Homo sapiens: one gene and its partner. The protein of the gene in region 2 interacts with the protein of the main gene of each other region in a pairwise test. Each region holds a gene or a part of one and is shown on either strand. Other genes may lie near its edges.

Region 1 (3,500 bases), on a different chromosome or scaffold from region 2:
CCACAAGATGGTGGACAACCGTGGCTTCATGGTGACTCGGTCCTATACCGTGGGTGTCATGATGATGCACCGGACAGGTAGGTGCTGTGAGGAGCAGGGTGTCAAGGTGGGTGGGGGTCCAAGGGTAGTTGGTCTGACCCACCCCTGCACACAGGGTGCCCAGTGTCCTTTCCGCTCCTCTCCCAGGCCTCTACAACTACTACGACGACGAGAAGGAAAAGCTGCAAATCGTGGAGATGCCCCTGGCCCACAAGCTCTCCAGCCTCATCATCCTCATGCCCCATCACGTGGAGCCTCTCGAGCGCCTTGAAAAGCTGCTAACCAAAGAGCAGCTGAAGATCTGGATGGGGAAGATGCAGAAGAAGGCTGTTGCCATCTCCTTGCCCAAGGGTGTGGTGGAGGTGACCCATGACCTGCAGGTAAGGGGTGGCCCAGCCTAGGGGCCTGCAGGCCTTGGAGCCAGGGGGAGGTGCTTGGGGGACCCACTCACCAATTCAGCAGGTCTGTCCCAAGACCCCCTGGATGTCCAGGCAGTGCTGGGCTCTGTGATGGGGGAAGCTGGGGCAGGAGGTGTGGGCCATGCCCTTGGGAAGATGATGATAATACCAGCAGCTAAATATAACGGAACATTCCTGTATGCTAGGCGTTCTTCTAAGCACTTTATATGTATTATTATTATTTTTTTTTTGAGATGGAGTCTCACTCTGTTGCCCAGGCTGGAGTGCAATGGTGCCATCTCGACTCACTGCAACCTCCACTTCCTGGGTTCAAGCGATTCTCCTGCCTCAGCCTCCCGAGTAGCTGGGATTACAGGCATGTGCCACCACCCCCAGCTAATTTTTGTATTTTTAATAGAGACGGGATTTCACCATGTTGGCCAGGCTGGTCTCAAACTCCTGACATCAAGTGATCCTCCTGCCTCAGCCTCCCAAAGTGCTGGGATTACAGGTGTGAGCCACCGTGCCCAGCCTTTATACGTATTAAACTCTTTTAATCCTCAAAACGACTTTATTAGGTAGGACTATAAGTTTCATCTTAGAGATGAGGAAACTGAGGCTCAGAAAGGTTAAGTAACCTGTGCAAAGTCACACAGCTAGTAATTCAGACATCTTGCACCAGAGCTAACCCTCGGTCACTGCACTGCCTCTGAGGTCTGAAGTGCCCCCAGTTATAGATTGTTTAAGCTAGAGGATTATCTACCATCCAATAATCAGACTGGTAGCTATGGGTCATCTAGGATGGCCAGAAACTTAACACACATTCTCAAGATTCTCCCTTGCAACCACCCTGGGTAGTGGGCAGAGGCTCAGAGAGAAGCAATGACTCCCTAAGGTTCCCCAGGCTCATAAGTGGTGGAGTTGCAATTAGACCTCAAGGTAAAAACATAATAGCCGCCTTTTTGTCAATCGAGAGATATTTTTGACTTACCCAAAAAAGGAAACTTTCGTGTCATTCTTTCCTTGGATGCCACAAATGGTTCTCACCTGCAGAATCGATCCAGACTTGCTGCCCAGAGAGCTTGGAGAGATAAAGCTGGAGATGAAGTGGGGCTTAGGCTCCAAACCAGGGACAAGTGGAGCTCGTACTGGTCTGTGCTGTAGACCCTGGGAGTTCCTGGAGAGGGGTCACTGTCTCTCTCCTGGTCCTGGCCCTGATCCTTCCCCAGCCCCTTCTCCAGTGGCTGTTGTCCCACCCCCTTCTCCCCTTGTTCCTCTGGTGTCTTCCTGGAACCCTCAGTGGAGACCCCACCCCCCAGATATGGGGTAGATTGAGTTAGGAAATTTGAGGCGGATGACGTGTGCAAGGTCATCCGGGTGGGAAGAGCTGGGCCTACCTCGAATGCCTGTCTCATGACCCCCTGACTCTCAGGACCTCAGGCCTAGTTCCTGTGTGGCCTTGCCAGGGAGGTGGATGTTATCCTGAAGAATCCTGGACCCGGATGCTGCCATTCACTCAGCCCACAGCCATTTACTGTCCTCTCTCCTGCATTGAGAGCCAGGGAGAGCGCTGGACATGGGCCCCGCCCTCAGGGAGCTCCAAGCCAGGTGGGAGAGACAGGCAGCACCAGACTGATAACAGGAAGGTCCAGGGAGGCACCACTCATCCTGTGGGCTCGGGAAGGCTTCCTGAAAGAAGTGGTTTCTAAAGAGCCCTAATGGGAGACAGGATGGCCATCCAGGATATAAGCTGTTCTGTGAGGCTGTCTGGAGAGTGGGGTGGGGCGTGCCAAGGGATGTGGCTGGAGGCTGCCACGTAGGCACAGGTCATATGTTAAAGAGCTTATGGTTGGCTTCCAAGAGCTGTGCAGGGCCATGGAAAGATGTTTGTGTGTGTGTGTGTGTGTATGTGTGTATATGTGTTTTAACTTTTTACTATCGAACATTGGAAAAATAAAAGTAGATTAGTGTAATGAAACCTCAAGTGTCTGTCGCCCAGCTTCAAGCATTATCAGCTCATGGCCAATAGTGATCCATTTATACCCACTAATTCCCCCCTGCATCTGATTATTCTGAAGCAAATTCCAGGCATCCTATCACTCTGGACAGGTTTTCAGCCCCAGAGTGATGTGGACATAGTTGTCCTTAGATCAGTCTTTCTCAAACTTGAGTATGCTAAGAAAGCACTTGGGGAGTTTGTGAAAAGGAATCCATGCCCACTCCCAGAGATTCTGATTCAGGGGGTCTGGGCTGGGGTCAGGACATGAGCATTTGAGATAAGCTCCTGGGTGGTGCCCATGCTGTCTGTCCCTGAACTGCAGCTGGGCAGTGCCGGGATACGTTCTCACTTGTTTTTCTGAGTCTCAGCTTCCTCATCTGTGAAGTGGCAATTAGAAGCCCTTGTAGGGTTGCAGTGAGAATTGAGAAAGCTGTGATTTGAAGTGCCAGTGCCATGCCTGGCATACAGAAGGTGACCAGGGGGTGGTTCTCTCCTCTCTGAGGAGCGGTCAGGGTAGTATGGGGTGGAGGGTTTGAGGGTGGAGGAGCCTGGCAGCCATGGCCTCACCTGGCACACCTCCTTGTTCCCACAGAAACACCTGGCTGGGCTGGGCCTGACTGAGGCCATTGACAAGAACAAGGCCGACTTGTCACGCATGTCAGGCAAGAAGGACCTGTACCTGGCCAGCGTGTTCCACGCCACCGCCTTTGAGTTGGACACAGATGGCAACCCCTTTGACCAGGACATCTACGGGCGCGAGGAGCTGCGCAGCCCCAAGCTGTTCTACGCCGACCACCCCTTCATCTTCCTAGTGCGGGACACCCAAAGCGGCTCCCTGCTATTCATTGGGCGCCTGGTCCGGCCTAAGGGTGACAAGATGCGAGACGAGTTATAGGGCCTCAGGGTGCACACAGGATGGCAGGAGGCATCCAAAGGCTCCTGAGACACATGGGTGCTATTGGGGTTGGGGGGGAGGTGAGGTACCAGCCTTGGATACTCCATGGGGTGGGGGTGGAAAAACAGACCGGGGTTCCCGTGTGCCTGAGCGGACCTTCCCAGCTAGA
Region 2 (3,500 bases):
GACACAGACTGCACAGAGCTTAGGAGGAAGATAAGAAAGTGGAAACAATGGGCATAGATGCTTTTTTGTTCTTTGAACTGTGGACATACAATGTAGCAAAAGGGTCAAGTGAAAGTTTTTTTCGAGACAGAAGGAAAAGTATATGGCTCAAGATAAGAGTGGGATATTGAAATTGGAGAAGAAAAGGGAAAGAGTAGAAGCAAAGATCTTCAGAATAGAAACAAGGGTTCATCAGGGCCAGACTAAGGTGAAATATACATGGTGCTTACCTGGGGTGCTAATTTAAGAAGGTCCCCAAAACTCAGTATCATGATAAATAGTATTTTATTAAATATTCCTAAAAAATCAAAATCAATGCAACAATACATGATGGAACAAAATATCAAACTTTTCTTCATTATGAATTTTTTTGAAAAAAGATTATGCTTTTTTTCCCAAAAAATGGGACAAAATTCTGTGTGAATCTTTTTGAAAATACTAATTTTTTTATTCAAAATGAATCAAAAATACATTGAGGACTTTTCTTGAACACATCATGATTCTTTTCAAAATTGACTAAAAGTATGTTTTTTTGGGGAAAAAAAGTCCATGATAAGCAAAGTTTTGAGATTTTATTTATCATACATTTTTGGTAGTAATTTTGATTTTTTAAAATGTTAATTATTTATCTTGATTACTGAGTTTTTTTAAAAAAGAGTTTATTTGAGCAAAGACTGATTTATGAATTGGGCAGCATCCTGAAGCAGTAGAGGTTCAGAGAGCTCCACCCAACAATGCAGGCAGGCAGTATTTACAGAAAGAGGAAGTGACACCCAGAAACAGCTTGATTGGTTACAGCTTAGCAATTGTCTTTAATGGGCATGGTCTGATCACTTGACAGCCTGTGGTTGCCTGAAGATCAGCTGGTATGGCTGGCTGAGATGGAGCTACCTGTTGCAAGAATATACTCCTAAGTTAGGTTGCAGTTTGATTACTGAGTTTTTGGTACCTCTTAGATTTTGTACCTGGGACAGGTTCCTCACCTCACTCACCCTGGCCCTGTTCCTGAGACAAGGAATAGCTCCTTTTAAGATGCTGATTATCATGCTTCTGCCTTGCTGGGCACACCCACACTGGTTGTAATACTCACCATCTCTTCCCATTTTCACATCTGGACTCTTCTTCTCATGCCCCTCAACCCTTAATCCCTCCCTTTCTTTGTACTCTTGCTTCTCTTCTGTCCAATCTTTGTGTCCATCTCCCAAGGCCATCTCCCATGGTATATTCCCCACCTCCCCACACCTGCCCTCTCCATCCGCCATGCTCCCTGCTTCTCTCCAGTCTCTCTTGTGCCCAGATAGACCAGCCAGAGTTTGATGTTCCCCTCAAGCAAGATCAAGAACAGAAGATCTATGCCCAGGTAAGATGGCACATGGACAAAGGCCCTGCCCTCTGAGGCCAGGAGAAAAGCAGGGACCTCTGGCACCTGTGACTGACATTTCCTTCCTCCAGATCTTTCGGGAATACCTGACTTACCTGAATCAGCTGGGAACCTTGCTGGGAGGAGACCCAAGCAAGGTGCAAGAACACTCTTCCTTGTCAATCTCCATCACTTCACGGCTGTTCCAGTTTCTGAGGCCCCTGGAGCAGCGGCGGGCACAGGGCAAGCTCTTCCAGATGGTCACTATCGACCAGCTCAAGGTGCCTGGAACTGGGGGCCAGAAGACTGTGGGCATGGGGATCTTCCTCTCAAACATTACCTCCTTTCCTTCTTCCTCCTAGTGCCCTTAATACCTTTTCATTCTGTCTCTGACTCCATCCCCTCCCCCAGTTAGCCTGTTCTCTTCTTTTTCTCACACCCAAGGGGAAGCCCTTTCCCCTTCCTTCTCTTTTCCTTTTCCCCCTCAGCTTTGTGTCCCTCCTCTAAGGAAATGGCCCCCGCCATCGACTGGTTGTCCTGCTTGCAAGCGACATTCACACCGATGTCCCTGAGCCCTTCTCAGTCCCTCGTGGTCCATGACGTGGAATATTTGAAAAACATGTCACAACTGGTGGAGGAGATGCTGCTAAAGCAGAGGTTCGCCGCAGGTGGGATTGGGGAGATCATGGAAATGGAGGAGAGCCTGAGCACCGTAGATCTTGGGGGCAAAGGAAACCTTGGGGAAGGCAGGCTGGTAAGGGCCTCCCAGGAGGATAAGAGGAACCTGCCACCTGTGCGGGCAGAGAAGCGTGGGGTGGGTGGCACAGAGAGGATGGAGGGATCAAGAAGGATGTGTCTTGGGAGCACGAGTAAGGGAGGATACACACGACATGAGGAACGCAGGGTCAGCCAAGACACGGGGTTTCCTGAGAGTAGAACACCAGCCAGTCAAGAGCCTCTGAGCTGTAGAAGATGCTGGAAGACCCAGACACAGAAGACAGTTAAGTGTATGTATGTCTTTTTAGCAGCTGAGGACTGTGGGCAGGAGGAGGAGGCACATGAGATGAGGAGATGAACATGGTGAAGGCTGGGGATGCTTAGGGGAAGAAAGGAAGAGGAGGGGCCATTCCTCAGGTGTGGTGTGAAGATGCTGGAGCTCTTATGGGAAACAATGTCTAAGAGCATTTCTGCTGGTGTCAGGAAATCAAGGGGGTGTTGGGGTTGGGGACATGAAAGAGTGGCTCTTTGTTGGGCTCTCTGCCTCCCCTGATACCTGGGTGGCTACCACCTGAAAGCAGTGGCTTTCTTCCAGGGGCTTGGACCTAAGGGCCTTCTTCATGGTGGCAGCAGCATCTGGAAATCCTTTTTGAGGGAGGTAGCTGCCCATTCACATGGCAGTGAGCAGGCTTACATAAGGGTGCAATGCAGCCCTGGCAGGAGCATTGCTGGTGGAGGAGAGAGCAGTCACAGAGACCAGCTTACTTATGCTTATGAGATACATCTGAGGATAACCAGAGATATCTTGACTGTGGAAGCAGAATCTGTTTCATGACATGAGTCCAGACTCCATCTAGCCCAGAACTTTCTTTCCCTGTGACTTTGAAGGCTGCCTCTTCATCTAGTTTCTTTTACTAAGGAGCTAGATCCCACCCCAACCTACATCATGAAAAGCTCTTTTTGACTTGGGTGCATGTTAAAACACTTATTAATACAGAGGAGAAGGAGCTGCCTTCACGAGTATCAAGGTGACTTACACAAGGAGAGGCTCTTCTTGAAGCATCCCCAGATTCCTGGGGTATATGTGTGGGTCTCTTTTGTCTCCATAGGGACTTTCTGCAGAGCCACATGATCTTAGGGCTGGTGGTGACCCTTTCTCCAGCCCTGGACAGTCAATTCCAGGAGGCACGCAGAAAGCTCAGCCAGAAACTGCGGGAACTGACAGAGCAACCACCCATGGTGAGGAGAGGAGCGGGTGTATTTGCCCAGATACTCGAAAGGAGTATCTACTCTTTTGAGGGGTAAATGTCGGCATCTCTCTCTCAGGGAGGGGGCCGTGATGGTAGATGCCCCTCCATGTCTTGGCTTTCCATAGAAGCAGGCA

Evidence for each region. Proteins that work in one complex are often made in the same cells at the same time.
Region 1: the proteins of KEL (region 2) and SERPINH1 interact in binary tests that used the Homo sapiens proteins (3 or more experiments, as listed by UniProt).

What each region holds. Positions count from the first base shown.
Region 1 is NC_000011.10:75,568,753-75,572,252, forward strand, and holds part of SERPINH1 (serpin H1 isoform 1 precursor), read left to right. Parts: coding exon 1-77; intron 78-186; coding exon 187-419; intron 420-3,028; coding exon 3,029-3,331; 3' UTR 3,332-3,500.
Region 2 is NC_000007.14:142,952,364-142,955,863, reverse strand, and holds part of KEL (kell blood group glycoprotein), read left to right. Parts: intron 1-1,336; coding exon 1,337-1,399; intron 1,400-1,491; coding exon 1,492-1,680; intron 1,681-1,907; coding exon 1,908-2,056; intron 2,057-3,225; coding exon 3,226-3,355; intron 3,356-3,500. UniProt on the Homo sapiens protein: Zinc endopeptidase with endothelin-3-converting enzyme activity. Cleaves EDN1, EDN2 and EDN3, with a marked preference for EDN3.